Linked DNA regions of Homo sapiens. Changing the gene in region 5 together with the main gene of any one other region gives a genetic interaction. Each region holds a gene or a part of one and is shown on either strand. Other genes may lie near its edges.

Region 1 (3,074 bases), on a different chromosome or scaffold from region 5:
CATGACTTGGTAATGGATTGATTACTAGGTATATTAATCCAGGTTCATACTGCTGTAAAGAACTGCCCGAGACTAGGTAACTTATAAAGGAAAGAGGTTTAATTGACTCACAGTTCACAGCATGGCTGGGGAGGCCTCAGGAAACTTACAATCATGGCAGAAGGTGAAAGAGAAGCAAGGCATCTTCTTCACAAGGCAGCAGGAAGGAGAAGTGTTAAGCGAAGCAGGGAGAGCCCCTTATAAAACCATCAGACCTCGTCGGGTGCGGTGGCTCATGCCTGTAATCCCAGCACTTTGGGAGGCCAAGGTGGGCGGATCATGAGGTCAGGAGATCAAGACCATCCTGGCTAACATGGTGAAACTCCATCTCTACTAAAAATACAAAAAATTAGCTGGGTGTGGTGGCAGGCACCTGTAGTCCCAGCTACTTGGGAGGCTGAGGCAGGAGAATGGTGTGAACCTGGGAATTGGAGTTTGCAGTGAGCAGAGGTCGTGCCACTGCACTCCAGTCTGGGCGACAGAGCGAGACTCAGTCTCAAAAAAAAAAAAAAAGAATAGGTGGAATTGAATTGAGGCCGTCAGTGAACAGTCAGGAACATTGGAAGGCTCATCCATGTGGATGTGCACAAGGAGGTGACAGGAGGAGGAGAAGAGGCAGTGATGGGGAACTGAGAGGAGTGTCAGAGGACAGTAGAGACAGCAAAGAGGAGGGTTGTGGCTTGATGGCATGGTCTTCCTAGAAGCCGGGGTTTTGAAGAGAGGAGATCTAGGCATGATTTAGAAGCATGAAGGGACCAGGCTCCCAGGCACCTGGTGTGTGAAAGGAAAAACAGCCTCCCTAGGCAGGATTCTATCAGGACCAAAGGGAAAGGGCCCTTCAGAGAAGACAGCCCATGTTCCGGAAAGCATGTGAAAGGCTTTGGGAGGTCTGGAAAGGAGATGAGGGTCAACAAGAATGTATTGCCTCATCCAGGCAGTGCGCTGGACACGCAGATGCGCTTGGGAGCCAGCGGTCCCTGCCTTGGCTGCTTGTGGTCTGATGGAGCAGTTGAGGCACAGTGGTGGCAGCTGGCTAAGCACCTGCGGCCTGCTTCGGATCTGGACTAATTCTGAGGGCCGGCTCTCCTGGGCACCAGGGTTAGGGGGTTACGGGGAGTATGTGAGTAACGCCTGCTTTGGGAACATAAACCCCCTCCCCCGCCCCCATGTGCGCTGTGACCCACGCCCTCGCAGTCCTTTCTCTGGAATCATCCATGCGCCCCTGGAGCAAGCTGGGGCGTCTGTGAAGGGGTGGGTGAGAAGGAGCTGAGGTTGCGCCCGCCCTGCAGTCACCTGCTCTCCCCTTTTCCCCGCCCCTGCCCTCCTAGACACCATCCGGAAGATGAAGAACGATTTCCGGAAGATGGAGGATGAGATGGACCGGCTGGCCACCAACATGGCAGTGATCACCGACTTCAGCGCTCGCATCAGCGCCACGCTGCAGGACCGCCACGAGCGCATCACCAAGCTGGCAGGTGGGCGCTGCCGGGCAGGGCCTGCAGTGGGCCTTTCCTGGGGCTCTGGGGCTAACGTCACCCTCCGTCCCCCAGGGGTCCACGCGCTGCTGCGGAAGCTGCAGTTCCTCTTTGAGCTGCCCTCGCGCCTCACCAAGTGCGTGGAACTGGGCGCCTATGGGCAGGCGGTGCGCTACCAGGGCCGCGCGCAGGCCGTGCTGCAGCAGTACCAACACCTGCCCTCGTTCCGCGCCATCCAGGACGACTGCCAGGTCATCACGGCCCGCCTGGCCCAGCAGCTGCGGCAGCGCTTTAGGTGTGGCCCCTCTGCCCTGACCCCAGCGCTCCCGCCAGCCCCGAGCCCCATCTGTGCCCGGCTCCTGGGCCCTCCTGGAGCTGTCCCCCTGCCCTGTGTGTGCTTTGCTTTCCTGCTCCTGCCCCATCCACCGGCAGCCCCGGCCCTGCCCTTCACTACCTCTCCCTCGTGCAGGGAGGGCGGCTCAGGCGCCCCGGAGCAGGCAGAGTGCGTGGAGCTGCTGCTGGCCCTGGGCGAGCCTGCGGAGGAGCTGTGCGAGGAGTTCCTGGCGCACGCCCGCGGCCGGCTGGAGAAGGAGCTGAGAAACCTGGAGGCCGAGCTGGGGCCCTCACCTCCGGCTCCCGACGTGTTAGAGTTCACCGACCATGGAGGCAGTGGCTTCGTGGGCGGCCTCTGCCAGGTGGCGGCGGCCTACCAGGAGCTGTTTGCGGCCCAGGGCCCAGCAGGTGCCGAGAAGCTGGCGGCCTTCGCCCGGCAGCTGGGCAGCCGCTATTTTGCGCTGGTGGAGCGGCGGCTGGCGCAGGAGCAGGGTGGTGGTGACAACTCACTGCTGGTGCGGGCGCTGGACCGCTTCCACCGGCGCTTGCGGGCTCCCGGGGCCCTGCTGGCCGCTGCCGGGCTCGCAGACGCTGCCACGGAGATCGTGGAACGAGTGGCCCGCGAGCGCCTGGGCCACCACCTGCAGGGTCTCCGGGCGGCCTTCCTGGGCTGCCTGACAGACGTCCGCCAGGCGCTGGCAGCACCTCGCGTGGCTGGGAAGGAGGGCCCTGGCCTGGCCGAGTTGCTGGCCAATGTGGCCAGCTCCATCCTGAGCCACATTAAGGCCTCTCTGGCAGCAGTGCACCTTTTCACCGCCAAAGAGGTGTCCTTCTCCAACAAGCCCTACTTCCGGGTACGCCTCCTCTTGGGTGTTCCTTGTTCAACCTGCTGGTTGACCCTCCAAAACCTTTTATGCCAGTGCTTGGGAAACTGGGGAAACCAGGCACTCTGGGTGTGGTTTCAGGTTCTTATGCACGGTCTGGGGGGTGGGGAAGGCTCAGGGCATCTGCAGCTGGGCTGAGAAGCAGGGCATGGTGGGGTCCCCAGTGTTGGCTTTCTCTGCCCCCACTCAGGGAAGCTGCTCCGGGGTACTTAGAATGTAGGATGATGCTGTCCCTTGCAGAGGGGGCTGGGGCACTTAGAGCCCCAGCAGAGGGTCATTAACAGCCTTACCTGGAAGAGGGGACCTGCTGTGGACCTGGGCACCTTCTCTTGCAGGGTGAGTT
Region 2 (3,062 bases), on a different chromosome or scaffold from region 5:
CATAGTTTTTTATGTCTGCAAAAGCTTGTCATAGATAATAGTTAATACTTATAACAGTTCTTCATTTTATTGCAACTTAATGTGTACAACCATTTCTCTCTTGCTCAACTTTTAGTTTCTTTTCCCACAGTGAACATCGTTTTCTATATTTTGGGTTATGTTCAATTACCAGTTGTTCAGTGATAACTGATGTTACTGATAAGAAATTTTATTGCCTTCAAAAGTTTTACATACTTACATTTTATAATATTTATGTAACATGTGTATACTTTGTTTTAATAACTACAATATATATTTTGTTGAATATCCTGCCATTTTTCATTTATATCATGAGCATTTTATCCTATTATAAAATGGTTTTATTTCCTCCATTTCCTGGTGATGAGAATTATGAAATCATTTTTTAAAGGAAAATTTTAAATATTTCATCATACAAATGTCTTGTAATTTATTTTTTTCTGTATTTTTAGACAAAAATTATTTTCCTATTAAAAGTACTTTAATGAACAGTTTTGTATGTAAGTCTATGTTTATGTCTGATTTTCTTTTTTGGGATACATTTCTAGAAGTAGAAAAAAGGATGCAGAGTATTGATATTTTAAATATTTTTGATACGTATTGCCAGATATATTTTTGACATATGTTGCTTTCTGTGGGCACTCATTGCATAATTATAAAGCTTTTTTAAAGTGTCAGACAGCGTTCTGGGTGCTAGAGATATAACTGAACCAAAAGAGCACAGATGTATTAGCTGGGTGTGGTGGCACACGCCTGTAGTCCCTGCTGCTGGGGAAGCTGAGGTGGGGAGATCGCTTGAGCCCAGGAGGTCACGGCTGCCATTGATTGTGCCATTGCACTCCAGCCTGGGTGACAGAGTGAGACCCTGTCTAAAAAAGAGGAAAGACAAAAAAAGCACAGATGTATTGTGTATGAGAATATGGCTTCACTGCAGCAGCCCAAGCACTGAATATTATTGATTTTTAAATCTTTGTTATTTAGCTAAATGAAAAATGCTCTCTTTTAGTTTGCTGTTCATAGTTTGCTGCTCATAGCTTCTTAGTTCAGAATTTAATCAAATGATTTTGTTTTCTTTATAGATTGTGCCAAGGACTTGAATGGATGATGTCACGACTTAAGATTAGATGATCTCTACTGACCTCTTCTCATAGATTTTGTATAAATGAAGTGCTGGACTTTACCTGAAAGCTGCAAAAATTAATGGTTTAGATATATTTATAATAAACTGATTTAAACTTTTTCTATAAGAAGAAAAATTAAGACCACTTATTTGAAAACAAAGATGAAGTCTCACCTTCCAGTTTGCTTTCTCATTAGTTTTTTCCAAAGTAAGTTATTGAAGCTGTGATTGACATTTTTCTCATAATGAATCCTCTCAGGACATTGTGTAGCCTATGGTAAGTACAAAGGGAGAGGAAGACATTTTGAATTTTAAGAGCTTTATTATCAGTTTAACCCTCCCTAGTTGAATGTTATTTTCTTCTTGTTCCATTAAGTCAGAATACAAATCAGCACAGATATTCGAATGTTTCCAATATTTTAAAATGTAATGTTACTTATGAAAAGTATTTTGCTTAAGGTTGTGTGTGTATTGTGTATATACCTCAAGTTCAAGTTAATGGCATTGATTTATGTTCCAGACAAAAATAACACAAATAATAATATCCTTCGTTATAACCACAATGAGATAAGTATTGGCATTAGTGTTCAGTGCCATTTTATACTTTCTCTCTGTGTTCTCTGTATTGTACTAACCAACCTCCCAAATCGCTGAGCTGCTTGTTTAAAAAAAAAAAAAAGGAAAAGGAAAAAGCATGACATTGTGTATCGATTTTTTGTTGTTGACCAAAATCACACACATGGAAACATGTAATTCAACAGAGTGGGAAAGCTAGCAGATTCTTGGCTTAGTATTACTAATAGGCAGGATTGTACAATGAGCAACTATCAGATTATTCCTTTCAGTGGTTCTTATGGCATCTAAATTACTGAATAAATTATTAATCCATTAATCAGTGAATCAAATTATGATTACAATTATCAAATGAATGCTCAGCATTAATTGAAAACTGTTTTGTGAAACATGTCTACCCAGAAAAGTAGCATTCTATAAATACTATTAAACAACTTAGCTATATTATTTTTAAGTATTAAATTATATGTCAAGCAGTTAAAGTGAATTTCAGAGTAAAAGTAAGGCATGTTTCTGAGCAACATTGATAATTTCTTAATTTGCAAATTTCTTCTTATTTTGGTACTTGGAATATAGTGTGAGATTTTTTATTTCTAAATTTTGTTGTATCTTCTATTACATAAATGCATTGACAATTATAAAATGCAAGTGTTTTTTGAATGATTTTAAGAATTTGGCTTAAAAATTGATTGATACAACGTATTATTTGTACTAAGAAGTAACTTGACCCAAAACACCTTTTATGTTTGCTTAGGGTATATTTTTTCAGTGTCTGAAAGTCAAAGGTATTCCTGTCACAACTGTAAACAAACTTATCCTAAATGTGTTAAAACATATTCTTGGGTACTCTATTTATGTATCTTTCATGCCTTGAAAATCTGAAGGTTAATCCAAACTCACATGTTTTAGCATATTTGAGAAAAAAAAACTACCTTCAATATCAGCCTTTTAAATTTCATGAAGATTTTGGTGAGGAATAATAGTATATAGTTTAAGTATTGACAAAACTTTGAAAGTTTCTTTCTTTAAAATGGGAAATACTCAATATCTAAATCCAGGTCAGGCATGGGATATCAGTATTTAACATTGGATGTTTTATGTTTTATATTTATAATGTTCAAAATGCAAGCATAACATTTAATATTTGTCCACATGGTTTTACAAAAGTAAATCTTAAATTACTAAGCTTTTCCCATATGTTCTCGTACTTTCTCAAATCCCTATAAAGAATTACTTGTTATCTATTAAAAATCTCCTTTACCCAAATCTGTATTATGGTTTCGCCAGACAAATATTATGTGATGTAGCCCAGAAAATCCACACCTTTTGTCCTTTTTATGTTTTAATTTGA
Region 3 (2,876 bases), on a different chromosome or scaffold from region 5:
GAGACAGGGTTTCACCATGTTGGTCAGGCTGGTCTCGAACTCCTGAGCTCGTAATCCGCCCGTCTCGGCCCCACAAAGTGCTGGGATTACAGGCGTGAGCCACCGTACCCAGTCCCAACAGTTTTTTAAAACCCAGAACTATAATGCAATAATGTTAGCATTTGTTTTGGGAGTTTGAGCCTAAATGGTTGAAGTGCAGTAAATTGTTCTTAAAATACGTTTTATGAAAGTATTTGGAGTCATCTTCCTTACATTTTTTTCTCTAGGATGAAGACAACACCTAGCCAGGCATGGTGGCTCATGCCAGTAATGCCAGCACTTTGGGAGAATGAGTTAGGATAATTGCTTGAGTCCAGGAATTTGAGACCAGCCTGGGCAATGTAGCGAGACTCTGTCTCTACAAAAAAGAAAAAATTAGCCGGGTGTGGTGGCATGTGCCTGTAGTCCCAGCTACTCAGGAGGCTCAGGTGGAAGGATTGCTTGAGGTGGGAGGTTGAGGCTGCAGCGAGCCATGATCATGCCACTGTACTCAGCCTGGATGACAGAATGAGACGCTGCTTGAGAGGGGAAAAAAAAGACACCTGCTTGGGATGATTAAAGTTCTGTCTTGACTGGTAGTTATTTGAATTAGGTCCCTCCAGTGCTTTTAATCATGGTAGAATGTGCTAGCAAGTGAGTTTGTCTTACATGGAAGAGTTCTGTGTTCAAGGGCTTTCGGCCAGTGGCATTCCTAAACACAGTGTTAAAGGCGGTAGGGAATGTGAAAAGTATGACATAGTTCCTGCTCTCAACAGCTTGTAATTTTAGTATTATTATCGTAAGCTCAATTGTAGGTACTACTTCTTTTCTGGACTTTCAGGTGCTTATTACCGTGCAATTTAGTGGTATGAGTTGAGGACTAATGTTTCTATATCACATCCTGATAATCTCCACAGTTATGAAAACTAAACTATTTCCCCTCCCTCCTACACTTTTCCCCAACTTTATTTTAATGGAATTGTTTGGATTTCTTGATTGTTTTGTAATAGTGGGACACAGCAGGCCAGGAAAGATTTCGAACAATCACCTCCAGTTATTACAGAGGAGCCCATGGCATCATAGTTGTGTATGATGTGACAGATCAGGTAAGTTCCAAGAGGAGATTGTGTTACAGTGACCAAGTAGGAAGCCATTATTTGATTAATGTCAGATTCATTTACTACTTCATATATAAGCCATCAGTATTAATTTTATGGCAGAAAACTTTGTCCACTCTCAAATATAAATGTGAATCACTTAAAAGACATTTGTTTTCCTGTAATAAATAAAAGATTAGTAATTAGTTTTACGTTTGCTTTCAAGGGATTCTGGTTGTATTTATTGTCAACTAAATAACTTTGATCAAATAGCCAAGACTCTAACATATAGGCAAGAGTTTGTAGGGAATCGTGAGTTGCTTGGCTTATACTGTGTTCTTGGTGTTAAGTATTAACAGGAATATGGCCTGGTAATTAGAACTTGTCCATCAGAATTGCCAAAAGTGGGATTCGGGGGTCTCTGCCTATGGAGGATGTGGTTCAGAAATAAAGAATTTGAATAGGATAAGCTGTAGGAGGATCTTAGTATGAGAATGAGTATCTGAAGATTAGCTGTGAGAGAGGGCAGAGCGATGGAGGGAACAATGTGGGACAGTGTGAAGCATGTGATCCAGGGGCCATAACTTTTTTTGTTACTATTTTTTTAAATCAGAAACTTAGATTTCAGTGTCCTTTCTATCAAAGAAAAGGACAAAAGATAAACGTTCAAAATTGGAATTTATTTTTCTTTTGGCAAATGTTAAATCTCACCTCTAATGAGAAATCATAGCTAATTAGGAGATAACTTACATGTAAGCATTTAGATTCAGTGCCATTAGAAGTGCTGGGTGGGTGATATCTGCAGGAGAAAAAAATGATGCTAGTTTAAAAAATCTCTACTATTACCGTGAAATATTTTTAAATGAAAACTTTCGTCCTCTAAATATGACTGTGGAAAAGAAAATGAGTATATTTAATAACATCTTTTGACATCTCTAGTAGTAACAGTAGGTCATCTTATTCATAAACCAAAATTTTACCAAATTTCAGGCCAGGCGCAGTGGCTCACGCCTGTAATCCCAGAACTTTGGGAGGCCGAGGCGGGCGGATCACCTGAGGTCAGGAGTTAGAGACTAGCCTCGCCAACATGGCAAAATCCCATCTCTAGTAAAAATACAAAAATTAGCCAGGCGTGGGGGCCCGTGCCTGTAATCCTAGCCACTTGGGAGGCTGAGACAGGAGAATCGCTTGAACCCAGCGGGCAGAGGTTGCAGTGAGCCGAGATCGCGCCATTGCACTCCAGCCTGGATGACAGAACAAGACTTTGTCTCAAAAAAAAAAAAAAAAAATTAATCAAATTTCAAAACCAGGTTTTGTAGTACATTTAAATTGCATATTCCAAAGCAGTTGGGTTTGCCTGCGTTGCAGTTTAATATTAAGCTATACTTCCCTTTCAAATAAGGTATTTTCATCGTTAAGCCTGTAAATTCTAGTTTGTCATTGTTTAGATATTTATAGTCATTTTAATATATCTGTTTACGGCCAGCTGCAATGGCTAACACCTGTAAACTCAGCACTTTTTGAGGCCAAGGTGGGCCGATTGAGCTCAGGAGTTCGAGACCAGCCTGGGCAACATAGTGAAACTCCATCTATACAAAAAATCCAAAAAAAAAAAGACAGGTGTGGTGGCATGTGCCTGTAGTCCCAGCTATCCCGGAGGCGGAGGCGGGAGGATGGCTTGAGCTTGGGAGGTCGAGGGTGCAGTGAGCTGTGATTGTGCCACTGCACTCCGGCCTAGGTGACAGAGCAAGACCCTGTCTC
Region 4 (3,500 bases), on a different chromosome or scaffold from region 5:
AGCTGCTTTAGAGCATTTCTTTTAACACCAGGAGTTCTTCCCCTCATCATCTTTTTGGCTGAGTCGTCACTGCAGCGCTCATAGCCCCGCATGTACCTCTCCAGCCAGAACCCTTAGGAATCATTTGGGGAGCTCCATGAAGGGCATTGAGTCCAGGCAGAATGGCTACCTTGAGTTCAACATAAGCATTAAGATGGCCATTCGAAAACATTAAGCACAGAAGAATCCCATTCAGGTAATCTTCTGTTGGCTGGCTGTAGAACTACGGAGAACATCTGGAGAAACACGTCAAGGGTGTGTGTGAAATCGTTGAGCCTACTCGATTTTGTCGTGCTGTTGCGCGGTTTTCACTTGGCACTGTCCTTTAAACTCCTTCTGTGCCGTGACTCTGCAGTGTCTGGCAGCGTAGTAGACTCTACTCCCTCTATGGACGTGATCCCTCTGTGGGTTCTCTGCACACTTCTGTATTTCTCGGTTCTTTTTGGATTTAGGAGTGGATTTTATACATTTTTGAGTCATTCCTAAAGAGCGATTGACCCTTAAAGAACTGTGTACAGTGGTTTCCTTTCAGTAAGAACATAGTTGTGTGGCACCCCCTGACATGTGGTGTGGTTGATTCTTCTTCCTTGTCTTCCAACGCCACCCTCTTATGAGTCTCTTCCTACCCCCACAGGTGCCGCTTCTCTGTCTCCCTTCCCTCAGTCTGGCTTTTAACGGTGGTCTCCTGACATAGTCCATTCAGGCTGCTGTAACAAAATCCCATACCCTGAGTGGCTTACACACAACAGAAATACTGCTCACAGTTCTGGAGGCTGGAAGTCCAAGTTCAAGGTGCTTACCAGATTAACTGTCTGGGGAGGGCCCACACTCTGGTTCACAGAAGCACCTTTTCACTGTCTTCACATGTTGGAAGGGGCGAGGGATTTTTTTTCTGGCGTCTTTTTTATAAGGGCACTAATCCCATTTGTGAGGGCTCCACCCTCATGGCCTAATCACCTCCCAGAGCCATCATACTGGGGATTAGGTTTCAACATAAGAATTTTGAGGGGACATAAACATTCAGATCATAGCATGGCTGGAGTTCTGTCCTGGGCTCTCTTTTCACTTTCCTTGTTCTCATCTCATCCACTGGTAACTGCATTGCCTCCTGTCTCCACCTAAACTTCCAAGTATCTCCAGCCCAGAACCCTTTTGAGTCCAGGACCTGTCATTCATATCCATCCCAGAACCCTTTTGAACCCAGGACTTGTCATTCATATCAGACCACCACGAGCATTTCACTACAGCCTCTGATGGTCTTCCCTGTTTCCTCACTTTTGCCTATTTTTTTTCTTTTCTATTCCCTCTTAAGTGGGCCACACTTTTGTTCCCCTGGTTCTTATGTCAGGAATGTGGGTGTCCTTTGGACACTTCCTTCTCCAGTTGGATACCAGGCCCTTTCCCTCCCGAATGGAATGGAAATGCTGCTTCAGCTGTGTTCCTCTGCTCCTCCCCCTTACAGCAGTGACATAGCCTCTCTCCTGCTATTGTGTCCTGTGGCTCCACCGAGCACTGGGGAGCTTTTCAGTATGCACTTTTTTTTTTTTTGGAGAAAGAGTCTTACTCTGTCACCCAGGCTGGAGTGCAGTGGTGCGATCTTGGCTCATTGCAACCTCCGGGCTCCCAGGTTCAAGTGATTCTACTGCCTCAGCCTCCTGAGTAGCTGGGATTACAGGCCCGCACCACCACACCCAGCTAATTTTTGTATTTTTAGTAGAGACGGGGTTTCACCATGTTAACCAGGCTGGTCTCGAACTCCCGACCTCAGGCGATCCACCGGTCTTGGCCTCCCAATGTGCTGGGATTACAGGCATGAGCCACTGCGCCCGGCCATCTAGTGTGCACTTTGGACTGATGAGCTCCCCTACCTGAAATCCTGTAGCAAGTCCCTATAGGATAGGCATGTGGTACAGTGTGAAGCTCCTGAGTGGTCAACAGCTACCCCGTGACAACATGCCACACTCCATGTGCCACTCCCTCCCGCCTGCCTGCTGTGTCCTTGGCCCCAGTGGTGCTCTCCCGTGCTGACCAGCCGGCACGGCTCACCTGGCCGAACTCTAGCCTTGCCTTTTCCTCTCAAGGATGTAAAGGCTCTGCAGATTTCGGGAGGCCTGTCTCCCAGCACCTGATGGGACACTTTTTGCCCCACTGTAAATTCTGGGTGTATCCTCCACTGTATGCTGTCACCCCAAGGGCAAGCACTGCATCTGCTTAGTGAAGGATTTATTGTTCGGAAGATACATTTTCCCCTTGAGCAGAGAGTAGCGTATCCTGGCAGTCTTCGGTGAGCCAGTTGTACCAGGATTATGAAATGCAGATGTTTACTGTGTCATTGTTGCTGTCATTGCTACTGAGGAGTACTGACCAGAATCATCTGCAACTCTTAGTTGGCAGAGAGGACCACTATGGCGGGTAGCTCTTTTCTTTCCTGCCATTGTGGGGATGATTCCAGGCCAAAGATGATGGAGAAGTATGGAAATCATCTGAAAGGTTGAAGCTTGGCACGTGAAGCCATTCATGACTTTGTAAGGCAGTTTTGCTGAAGGCCAGTTCTGCCCTGGGAGGGACGGAGGTGAATCCTCCTGAGTACCTGTGGTTTTCTTACTTCCTGCTGAATTTACCTAAGTGCCTGTTGTTTGCTTGCTGTGGAGGCTTTCTGGTATTTCATTTCAGGTGCAGATGCCTTCACTTTCCCACAAAAAAAACCCCAACAAAACCTAAGACCTTACTGCAACTAAGTCTCCAAGTACTTTTTAACCCATTGGGATGAACAGCCTGTGGTCTGCTCAGATCACCCTGAGTGCGTGTGAGAAGGCCTGGGCTTTGCCAGGAAATCCAGGAAGGCAGGGCCGGGCTGTGTTGGAAGCTGGCTTAGCTGGTGGGGCAGCCTTATTTCAATTAAAAGGGCATTGACTGGGAGCAGCAGTCCTGGAGTTTGTTGCATTTCCTATTGCCCTCAAAATGAGAAACCAGGAAAATAGCAGATTGGAGCCTTCGAGAAGGCAGTAAATGGCTGTTTTTATTGACAAAAGGAAAACATTTTACTGCCATCTCACTGATGGCATCTCACTGACTTAAAATGAAGGCAGGTTGTAGTAAAAAAAAAAAAGTCTACATTTTTCCACCGCCACGTTCTTATATCCTTGTTTGTCAGCCACTGCTCACAAGGGCAGTGTTGTCTTGCGGAGTAGAGGCGCTCTCCTTCCCTCGTTTTCCTCTATAGGTTGGTGTGGCTGACCTGCTAGATCAAAGTGGAGGACCTGTTTAAGAATGTGTAAATTGAAGGCTGGGCGCAGTGGCTAACACCTGTAATCCTAGCATTTGGGGAGGCTGAGGCAGGAGGATCGCTTGAGTCCAGGAGCTCAAGACTGGCCTGGGCAACATGGTGAGACCTTGTTCATATAAAAAAATTTAAATAATTAGCTGGTTGTGGAGGCACGTGCCTATAGTCCCAGCACTTT
Region 5 (3,500 bases):
GTGGGAGGATTGTTTCAGCCCAGGAGGTGGAGGTTGCAGTAAGCCAAGATTGTGCCACTGAAATCCAGGCTGGGTGACAGAGCAAAACCCCGTCTCAAATAAAAAAGCAAAGAAAAAAAAAACACCTATCAGAGATAATACTAATTCAGAGAGTTTGGGCTGTTCTACAGACTACCTGGAATGCTACCTTCAGGAATTTCTTAACTTGAATCCACAGCCATGAGAAGACTGAGGTGGACAATGCCACGATCACCTACAGTGGTGGTAAACAACACCCAATGGAGGTCCAACAGCTTGCTTTATATATTTTTTTCTTTGTTAAACAGGAAAAGGAAAAGTTATGTATTACTTGAATATTGAAGAAAAACTAAAAATTTATTGTGGGGGCAATTCAGGTGTTGAGCAAAAGAACTGCTACTTTACAAAAATAAAATAGTGTATAGAAACCAAGTATATATAATCTGAAAAGCCATCCATTTCTATAATAAAAAAATTTACGGGAGGCTTAGGCAGGAGAACAGCGTGAACCCAGGAGGCAGAGCTTGCAGTGAGCCGAGATCGCGCCACCGCACTCCAGCCTGGGGGACAGAGCAAGACTCCGTCTCAAAAAAAAAAAAAAAAAATTTTACTTGATTGTCAAAGTAGGGAAACTAAGTTTGGCAATCATCATTTCTACATACCCCATTCTAAGATCAAGGTCACTTTTTACTTTTAATATTCTCATTTATCCTTTGAAGAAAAAATTTAAGGCTTAACTCACTAATAAATGAAAAGGTTTGAATTATGCAAAATGAAGAGAATTACTAAATACAATAATTTTCAAAACTAGTTTAATTAAAAAAAATTATCATCCATACACCTAACAGCATATGAATAATATCCTTTTAGTTTACAAGTTTCTGCAAATGCATAACATTTTGTTACACTAATTAAATGACTCGTGAATTAAGGACAATTTGTTTCACATAATTTATCTGATTATGCTTCCCATATTAAAGTTTTAACTTGATCTTTATAGTATTAAAAATACACAAAATCAAACAAAAATGAACAATAAAATATTTGCAACACAATCTGACAGATAATGTGACTATGTACCCAGAACATATAAAGACCTCTTGCCACTCAACCAGACAAACAATCCAATTTTTTAAAGGGACAAAAGGCTTGAACCAAAAAAAGTACACAAATGGCCAATAAGCATATGAAAAGATGTTCCAACATCATTGATCATCTGAGAAACACAAACCCACAATGAGATACTTAATACTCATTTGATGGCCAAAATTTAAAAGACTGGCAACACGAAGTGTCAATGAAAATGTGAAGAAACTGTAACTCCTGCACAGTTACAACTGTAACTTTCAATTTAAAATGGTACAACTATTTTGGAAAAGAGTTTAACGGTTTCTTACAAAGTAAAATCAATATTTACCACTAAAACATGTCCAGGAAAGACATACAAATGGTGATAGCAGCTTTATCAACAGCTGACAACAGTCCTATGTGTCCATCCATGGGTAAATGAATTTAAAAACTGTAGCACATGCCTACAATGGAATATTAATTCAGAGAGTTTACTACAAGTCAGGTGCCGCGGCTCATGCCTGTAATCCCAACACTTTGGGAGGCCAAGGCAGAATCATTTGAGCCCAGGAGTTGGAAACCATCCTGGGCGACACAGGAAAACCCCATCTCTACAAAAAAATATTAATAATAAATGTTAGCTGGGCATGGTGGTACATGCCTGTGGTCCTAGCTACTTGGGAGGCTGAGGTGAGAGGTTCGATTGAGCCCAGGAGGTCAAGGTTGCAGTGAGCTGAGATCTCGCCTAAAACTACAAAAATTAGCTGGGTGTGGTGGCAGACGCCTGTAATCCCAGCTACTCGGGAGACTGAGGCAGGAGAATTGCTTGAACCCAGGAGGCGGAGGTTGCAGTGAGCCGAGATCATGCCATTGCACTCCAGCCTGGGTGACAGAGCAAGACTCCATCTTGGAGGGAAAAAAAAAAAAGTTGAGAGAATGACTGTAAAAGAGGATGAAAGGACTCTGAGATGATGGCAACCATTATAGATCTTGATCCAGGCAGCGGTGCAGGTGCATACATTTGTCAAAACTCCTCAAATCATACCCTTCAAATGTGTGCTTTTTATTGTATGTAAATTATACTTCAATACAGTTGTTGTTTTAACTAAAAATTAATATAACTTGACAACACCTATTAAAACTAGAAATGTTCATAATCTTGAAAGAGCCAACTCTATAGAAAATTGTCACACAAATGTTCAAAGATACATAAGGATGTTCACTTCTTTTCAGGAGAGAAAACAATGTCAATCACAACAGATTGGTTTGCTGCGTAATGCACATTCATAAACTGGAATACTATGCACCCCCCTTACACCAAAGAGGTACAGCTGGATGGCTTAGAGCAAGGGGCAGCAAACTTTCTCTGTAAAGGGCCACATGGTAAGTATTTTAGGCTTGGCAGGCGGTATCTAGTCTCCCTTATATGTTCTTCAGGGAAGTGGGGTGGTATTGTTTTACAACTCTTTTAAAAGTGTTAACGTTTCCAGCTCACAGGCCTTACCAAAAATGATCCCTGGCTGGGAGATCAGGACTTTGAAGCTAACGTACCCAAATTAAAATCCTTCCTCTACCACTAACTAGTTGTTACTTAATCTCTCCATCTCTCGATATTATAGTATCTATATAAAATAATGACTTAGAAGAGTACCAAGCATATAGTGAGCCCTAAAGGAATATCAATTATTTTTTAATAAAACAGATCTTTGTATTGACCTTAAAAAAAAGCCATGTTAGAACCAAATAACTTGGTCCCATTTTTATAAAATGTATGTAAAAATACATATTCATATATGAATATATTTGAAAATTTGGGGAAGAATATACACCAAACCGTTAAAGGTAGCGAATGAGATAACAGGGATCAATACGCTTTCATTTTATAAATGTCTACATTGTTTCAGTAGTTTAAAGCGAACACATTTAATCAACAGACATTTCTAAATTGAAATAGATAAAACGTGTGGTACCATTTTTGTAACTTACCAGTCCTAAGCACGTAATTTTAACTTGAGAAGTGTTTGGTTCCATTAATGAGAAAGTACATCAACTCTAAAATAATATTGGCACAATAACTGAAAATCATTTATCAAACACTTTTTGCCAGGTACAGTTCTAAGGATTTCACATGTATCAATTCCTTTAATCCTCACAACCACCTTATCAGATGTTATCATTATCCTCACCAATTTACAGATAGGGATGCTAAGACATCAAGAGGATAACACCCCAGACACAAATTGGTAGCTCAGGGACTGGAACCCAAGAAACTGTCTCCAAAGACCACATCCTTAGAACTCTACTCTCCTCCCCTCTCAAATGCATACTATTACCACTCTGGCTGAGAAAGAAATCCTCAAAGTTAACCTTTAGTCTGTCTAGGGTTTCACACTGTACCTTCCATCAAACTACAA
Region 6 (3,500 bases), on a different chromosome or scaffold from region 5:
TTCCACACACAGGTGGCTTTTGGCTGAATCACAGCCATGACTGTCCGCTGGTGACTCTCTCATCCAGTCACCCCAGCACGCTACGGCAAGGAAATGCCTCTTCTCCATTTCTCAACATCAGCAAGAGCCCACACATGCCTGTGTGTTTCAGTGGGTGTGAACTGGCCGCCCGTGTCTGATTTAACACTGCCATCATCCCAGATGAGCCACAGAACCCCTTCAAGCTGGATCAGTGTCCTTTGGACACTTTGCTCTTGGTTTTGAACATGTCACCTATTCTGAAATTTAAATGAGTTCTGAAATTTATAAGGACCTTCACTGTAGTGTTCCCTTTTTGGGGACGGCCAGGTTTTCTAAGCCCAGAGGAAGACCACCACCCATGGAGCACAGAAGAGACTGAATACCTGCCCTCTCAGTCCACTCCTGCAACCACTACCAATGAAGACACCAAAATGACACACACGCCTTGAAGGGCAGAGAGAAAAGGGAGGAAGACCTTGGATGTGATGATTGACCAGGCAGAGAAAACTGGACCGCCTGGGACCCAAGGGATGAAGCTGGGACTGCCTAGGGCAGCAATGTCCAATCTTGGCTACCCTGGGCCACAATGGAAGAAGAATTGTCTTGGACCACACACAAAATATACTAACACAACAGCTGGTGAACCAAACCAAAACAAAAACCCCCAAAATCTCAATGTTTTATTAGAAATTTGTGTTGGGTCGGGTTCAAAGCCATCCTGGGCCACATGCGGCCTAAGGGTTGGACAAGCTTGGTCTAGGGGAGCAGCTGCAGCAGGGCTTAGGCCTGCGCTGAGCCATGACAACACACTTGAGCCATGAAATTCCAGAATAATTCCTGAGAGTTCTATATGCCCCAGCAGATCCACACACAAGCAACTGGAGCTCCGCCCACCCCCACCCCCCACCAAGAGACAGGCCTGTCTGCCTTTGAAAGGCCACCAACATAAGAGACCCAAATATAAAAGGAATCTGCAAGGAGGCAACCAAGACAGGAGACTGAAGACAGAATACTATTTTAACAAAGGACAAGGAGAGAAACCTGATAGATACACAAATAGCTGAAAAGGAAAATTCAAAATGAAGGTGCTCAGAAGGCAGAACAAAAACAAACAGAATGAAAAAGGAAGATGAGGAGTAACTTAAGATATCAACCAACAGAAACCCTAAAAAGAAAGAACGTACGAAATTACGGGGTGAAATTTTTCCCTGTTCCAGAGTGGGGACCCAGGAATCTGGGCTTCGGCCTCAAAGGGCTGAAGCGCAAAGCCAAGGACCTAGATGAGACCCAATAAAGGTGCAAGGTGGACTCCAGAATGCACAGGGGCAAATGACACCTCTGATGCCCCAGAGAATGGAAGACTCTGAAACACTGCTTTCGAAACCCTTTAATTCTATACCCAGCCAAAGTATCCAACAAGTGTTAGGGGAGAATGAAAATAACTCCCAAACTGCAGGGCCTCAGATCTCTCACATGCTCCCTCCCTAAGAAGCTCCCCCAGGGAACCAGGGAGAGGATGCGAGCCCACAGCAACGTGGAGAGAGAGCAGCAGCCTAGCCAACCCCACATGGAGAGAGAGCAGCAGCCTAGCCAACCCCCTCAGACTGGAGCAGGAAGTGGACACCTGCAAGAATGGGGCACGCCACCTACGTATTCTTATTATGGGGTTGGGCAACTCTAGGCAATGCGGAAAAACTAATAATGACAGGTTCGCATGAAAAACCCAAGCATGAAATGGAACGAAAAGAGGGCCTTTTATGAGTTACTCCAGGAAAACATATGGTGGAGGATACTCAGGGAGTCCTGATGTTGTTATTACTAGGGGGTTGGAAAGCTGAGGCGAGGGTGTGTGGTGTCAAAGGCTTGTTAACTGTACAAGTTAACAAGTCTAGGAGGAATAAACCTAGGACACCAAGTCAGCAGGGACTCAGGAATAAGGGTCGCCTGCCAGTTGGGCAGAGGCAGCACCAGACTGCCACGACCACTGAAGCACAGCACTTGGGAGAATTGACAGTAACACCCAGCCACTCAGGGGAAGGGGTGTCACACCGTCACCAACCCCCTCGACCCCAGCACTGTCCGTGATCCACACATGCCTGCTGCCTCCTCATGCCCGGGGCAGTGCCGCCAACCATGCCCAGGAGATCATGCAGCCTGCAGGCAGTGGGGTTTGTGATGCCAGTAATCCCAGGCCCTCCCCATTGGTGGCTTTTTTTTTTTTTTTTTTTTTTGAGACAGAGTCTCACTCTGTCATCCAGGCTGGAGTGCAGTGGCTTGATCTCAGCTCACTGCAACCTCTCAGGTGCGATCTCGGCTCACTGCAACCTCTGCCTCCCAGGTTCGAGATTCTCTTGCCTCAGCTTCCCGAGTAGCTGGGACTACAGGCGCGTGCCACCACGCTGAGCTAATTTTTATTTTTATTTTTAGTAGAGACGGGGTTTCACCATGTTGGTCAGGGCTGGCCTCGAACCCCTGACCTCAGATGATCAGCCCACCTCGGCCTCCCAAAGTGCTGGGATTACAGGAGTGAGCCACCACGCCCGGATTTTTTTTTTTTTTTTTAACAGACCAAAGCGTTAAGAGTCCCCAAAGGAGGGAAGCCACCCTGCAATGGAATGGCAGAACCAGGATGGGTGAACCTGAAGTCTCAGGTGTCAAGACATCGGCACACAGACAGCTTGGTCTCTCCTACCGACAAGCACATCTGTGGCCCTGCTGCACATATGGGCAGAGGGTGGCTGGCACGTCCTGCCTCGGCATGTTCCAGCATCCCCACAGGACCCTATACCTGGCAGCCCCTACATCATTTACTGCTTCTGTGACAGATGGAGACCCAATAGAGTTTCCTAAGAGGGAGAAAGAGTCCACAGCAACCCCCACCCTCAATTCCAGGGCCTCTTGGTACGGGTCCTAACTTGTGTCATGCCCAGGCCAGGTGCTGTCACCCTTTCTTCCACCAGAGTCCCTGCACACAAGCCAAAACCCGCTTTTCAGGTTCATCGGAATTATCCTGTGGTAGGAGCAAACCTGACTTTCTCAGAGCCTTCCTGCTTGTACACAAGGGGACCCCTCACACTTTGAGAAGGGGCTGCCCAGCAGGAGGATGCCAGGAGCCACCAGTGGCTACTTCTCTTTCCTGACCACGCTGTGGGCTCCAACTCTGAGGAAAAAAAGTCTTTTAGGAAGAATGTTTCTTTCTTCAGTGAGGACCACAGACCAATGGTAAAGGTGGCCTTCAGGCATTACACCAAAGAACGGGACAGTCAACTCTGGCAGCTACATTCCCCGACACCTCACTGTGCCTGAACAGGGGCAGGGAGAAAATGTAGCTCTGTGAGTTCACATCCGTTTTGTGTCCATGAATGGATCCAACCAAACTGGTCCAGATGCACATGGGGTCCAGATGCCTCTGTGGCCTGTACCCAGACCACCAGCCAGTACTGTCCTCGGTCCCTTGCAGATCTCAGGGATACTTTGGC
Region 7 (3,500 bases), on a different chromosome or scaffold from region 5:
GAATGGCCTCAGGCATGGAGCTTGTGTTTGGCACCTCAGCCTCCTATGAATCTGCTTTGTAGGACTGGCCTGCTACTGCCTTATAATAGTCTCAGCCCTATACCTGGTTTCCTGTCATGCTTATGACCCTCTTGAGATCTCTTTGCTTAACTACAAAAAACAACAAGCATAGAACTAATAAGTGGATTCAACAAGGTCACAGGATGTGAGATCAATACACAAAAAGTAATTATATCTCTACATGCTAACAATGAACAATATGGAAACTGAAATTTAAAATACAATACCATTTACAAGGGTTCCAAATAAAGTGAAATACTTAATATATAGCTGACAAAACATGTATAAGATTTGTATGATGAAAACTACAAAACTACAAAATAAATTGAAGAAGATGTAAATAAATGAAGAGGCATACTATGTTCATGGATTGGAAGGCTCAACATAGTAACTTTGTCACTTCTCCCCAAATTGATCTGTAAATTCAACATAACTCCTATAAAAATCCCAGAAAGGTTCTTGTAGACATAGGTAAGCTTATTCTAAAATTTAGATGGAAAGGCACAAGCTCTAGAATAGCTAGAAAGAATAAAGTGGAAAGAATCACTCTCTCTGGGCCGGTTGCTGTGGTTCATGCCTGTAATCTCAGCACTGCGGGAGGCCACAGCGGGCAGATCACTTGAGGTCAGGAGTTCAAGGCCAGCCTGGCCAACATGGTGAAACCCCATCTCTACTAAAAACACAAAAATTAGCAGGGTGTGGTGGCACACACCTGTAATCCTAGCTACTTGGGAGGCTGAGGCAGGAGAATCGCTTGAACTCAAGGCGGAGGTTGCAGTGAGCTGAGATCGCGCCACTGCACTCCAGCTGGGTGACAGAGTGAGATTCTGTCTCAAAAAAAAAAAAAAAGAATCACTCTGGTATTAAGACTTACTGTCCACTTTGGGGGGCTGAGGCGGGTGGATCACGAGGTCAGGAGATCAAGACCAGCCTGACTAACGTGGTGAAACCCCGTCTCTACTAAAAATAGAAAAATTAGCTGGGCGTGATGGTGAGCGCCTGATTGCTACTCGGGAGGCTGAGGCAGGAGAATCGCTTGAACCTGGGAGGCGGAGGTTGCAGTGAGCCAAGATTGCGCCACTGCACTCCAGCCTGGGCAACACAGCGAGACTCCATCTCAAAAAAAAAAAAAGACTTACTCTCGGCTGGACACAGTGGCTCACGTCTGTAATCCCAACACTTTGTGAGGCCAAGGCAGGCAATCACCTGAGGTTGGGAGTTCGAGACCAGCCTGACCAACATGGAGAAACCTCGTCTCTACTAAAAATACAGAATTAGCCAGGCATGGTGGGGCATGCCTGTAATCCCAGCTACTCAGGAGGCTGAGGCAGGAGAATCACTTGAACCTGGGAGGCAGAGGTTGTAGTAAGCCAAGATCACACCATTGCACTCCAGCCTGGACAGCGAAACTCTGTCTCAAAAAAAAGACTTACTGTATAGCTATAGTAGTCAAGATTATGTGGTGTCGATGGAGGGACAGACACGTAGATCAATGGAAAAGAATAGAGAGACCAGAAATAAGCTCAACACAAATATGTTCAGTGGATTTTTTGACCAAGATGTAAGAACAATTCAGTGGAGGAGGAATAGCCTTTTCAATAAGTGGTGGAGTGATTAAAATCCATAGGAGGAAAAACCAAATGAACCTTGACCTAAACCTCATACCTTACAGGAAAATTAACTCCAATGGATCATAGATTTAAATGTAAAGCTATAAAAACTTTAGAAACAGGAGAAAATCTTCAGGATCTAGAGCTAAGCAAAGAATTTTTAGCATGTTTGGCAGTCCTGTGGATCTGTCTCTTGCCTCAACACTGTCTGGATGGAACAGATCCGGGGGAGACTCTCTTTCAAAAAAAGTAATAATTTTTAGACTTGACATTAAAAGCACAATCTAGAAAAGGAAAAATTGATAAGTTGGGCTACATTAATATTTTTAAAAGTTTTGTTCTATGAGAGCCTATGTGAAGAGGATGAAAAGACAAGCTGTAGACGAGGAGGAAATATTTGCAAATCACATATTTGAAGAAAGGTATCTGTAATATAAAAACTCTCAAAACACAACAGTGATAAAACAATCCAATTATTAATAGAAAATGGACAAAACATAGGAACAGATGTTTCACCAAAGAACACATACAGATGGCAGATAGGCACATGAAATGAAGATAGCATCATTAACCATCAGAGTACTGCAAACTAAAACCACAATGAGGCTCACACCTGTAAGCCCAGCACTTTGGGAGGCTGAGGTGGGTGGATCACCTGAGGTCAGGAGTTTGAGCCCAGCCTGGCCAACATGGTGAAACCATGTCTCTACCAATAAATACAAAAATTAGCTGGGCGTGGTCACACACACCTGTAGTCTCACCTACTGAGGAGATTGAGGTGGGAGGATCGCTTGAACGCAGGAGGTTGCAGTGAGCTGAGATCGTGCCACTGCACTCCTGCCTGGGTGACAGAGCAAGACTCCAAAAAATAAAAACACAATGAGACATCACTACCCACTTTTCAGAATGGCTGAAATAAAAAGTAGTGACAATACCAAATGCTGAAAGGACGTGGAGAAACTGGGTCATTCATATATTGCTGGGTGGGAATGTAAAATGGTACAGCTACTCTGCTGGCAGTTTCTTATAAAATGAAACATATAATTACCATACAACCCAGCAATTGCACCCTTGGACATTTATCCCAGAAAAGTGAAAGCTTACTTTCTCATAAAAACCTGTACATGAATGTTTATAGAAGCCTTAGTTGTAATAGCCAAAAACTGGAATCGGCCCAGATGACTTTCAATAGGTGAATAAACTGTGGTACATACACACCATGGAATACTATTCAGCAATTTAAAGCAACAGACATCTCCAGGGAACTATGCTGAGTGAAAGAAAAGCCAATCTAAAAAGGTTATGTAATATATAATTCCACTTATATAACATTTTTGAAATGACAGAACTTTAGAATTTGAAGACAGGCTGGGCGCAGTGGCTCACACCTGTAATCCCAGCACTTTGGGAAACTGAGGCTGGTGAATCACTTGAGGTCAGGAGTTCGAGACCAGCCTGGCCAACATGGTGAAACCCCATCTCTACTAAAAATACAAAAATTAGCCAGGCGTGGTGGCTCGCACCTGTAATCCCATCTACTTGGGAGGCTGAGGCAGGAGAATCACTTGAACATGGGAAGCAGAGGTTGCAGTGAGCTGAGATCCTGCCTGCACTCTAGCCTGGGCAACAGAGTAAGACTCCATCTCAAAAAAAAAAAGAATTTGAAGACAGATTGCTAAGGATTAGGGATGGGGGCAGGAAGGAGGAGGTGGGTGTGGTTATAAAAGGGCAACATGAGCTGGGCATGGTGGTGCATGCCTGTAGTTCCAGCTACTCTGGAGGCTGAGACAGGAGGATCACTTGCGCCCAGGAGTTTGAGGCTGCTGTGAG

Evidence for each region.
Region 1: changes in EZH2 (region 5) and VPS51 together harm fitness more than expected from each alone (negative genetic interaction), as found in Homo sapiens cells (one large-scale study listed by BioGRID).
Region 2: changes in EZH2 (region 5) and ARL5A together harm fitness more than expected from each alone (negative genetic interaction), as found in Homo sapiens cells (one large-scale study listed by BioGRID).
Region 3: changes in EZH2 (region 5) and RAB1A together harm fitness more than expected from each alone (negative genetic interaction), as found in Homo sapiens cells (one large-scale study listed by BioGRID).
Region 4: changes in EZH2 (region 5) and IGF1R together harm fitness less than expected from each alone (positive genetic interaction), as found in Homo sapiens cells (one large-scale study listed by BioGRID).
Region 6: changes in EZH2 (region 5) and ARF1 together harm fitness more than expected from each alone (negative genetic interaction), as found in Homo sapiens cells (one large-scale study listed by BioGRID).
Region 7: changes in EZH2 (region 5) and GBF1 together harm fitness more than expected from each alone (negative genetic interaction), as found in Homo sapiens cells (one study listed by BioGRID).

Annotation. Positions count from the first base shown.
Region 1 is NC_000011.10:65,106,214-65,109,287, forward strand, and holds part of VPS51 (vacuolar protein sorting-associated protein 51 homolog), read left to right. Parts: intron 1-1,367; coding exon 1,368-1,514; intron 1,515-1,589; coding exon 1,590-1,809; exon of another isoform or gene 1,810-1,811; intron 1,812-1,983; coding exon 1,984-2,701; intron 2,702-3,066; coding exon 3,067-3,074. UniProt on the Homo sapiens protein: Acts as a component of the GARP complex that is involved in retrograde transport from early and late endosomes to the trans-Golgi network (TGN).
Region 2 is NC_000002.12:151,801,360-151,804,421, reverse strand, and holds part of ARL5A (ADP-ribosylation factor-like protein 5A), read left to right. Parts: intron 1-1,097; coding exon 1,098-1,146; 3' UTR 1,147-3,062. UniProt on the Homo sapiens protein: Lacks ADP-ribosylation enhancing activity.
Region 3 is NC_000002.12:65,089,231-65,092,106, reverse strand, and holds part of RAB1A (ras-related protein Rab-1A), read left to right. Parts: intron 1-1,028; coding exon 1,029-1,124; intron 1,125-2,876. UniProt on the Homo sapiens protein: The small GTPases Rab are key regulators of intracellular membrane trafficking, from the formation of transport vesicles to their fusion with membranes.
Region 4 is NC_000015.10:98,711,039-98,714,538, forward strand, and holds part of IGF1R (insulin-like growth factor 1 receptor isoform 1 precursor), read left to right. Parts: intron 1-3,500. UniProt on the Homo sapiens protein: Receptor tyrosine kinase which mediates actions of insulin-like growth factor 1 (IGF1). Binds IGF1 with high affinity and IGF2 and insulin (INS) with a lower affinity. The activated IGF1R is involved in cell growth and survival control.
Region 5 is NC_000007.14:148,874,292-148,877,791, forward strand, and holds part of EZH2 (histone-lysine N-methyltransferase EZH2), read right to left. Parts: intron 1-3,500. UniProt on the Homo sapiens protein: Polycomb group (PcG) protein. Catalytic subunit of the PRC2/EED-EZH2 complex, which methylates 'Lys-9' (H3K9me) and 'Lys-27' (H3K27me) of histone H3, leading to transcriptional repression of the affected target gene.
Region 6 is NC_000001.11:228,092,708-228,096,207, reverse strand, and holds part of ARF1 (ADP-ribosylation factor 1), read right to left. Parts: intron 1-3,500. UniProt on the Homo sapiens protein: Small GTPase involved in protein trafficking between different compartments. Modulates vesicle budding and uncoating within the Golgi complex. In its GTP-bound form, triggers the recruitment of coatomer proteins to the Golgi membrane.
Region 7 is NC_000010.11:102,371,032-102,374,531, forward strand, and holds part of GBF1 (Golgi-specific brefeldin A-resistance guanine nucleotide exchange factor 1), read left to right. Parts: intron 1-3,500. UniProt on the Homo sapiens protein: Guanine-nucleotide exchange factor (GEF) for members of the Arf family of small GTPases involved in trafficking in the early secretory pathway; its GEF activity initiates the coating of nascent vesicles via the localized generation of activated ARFs through replacement of GDP with GTP.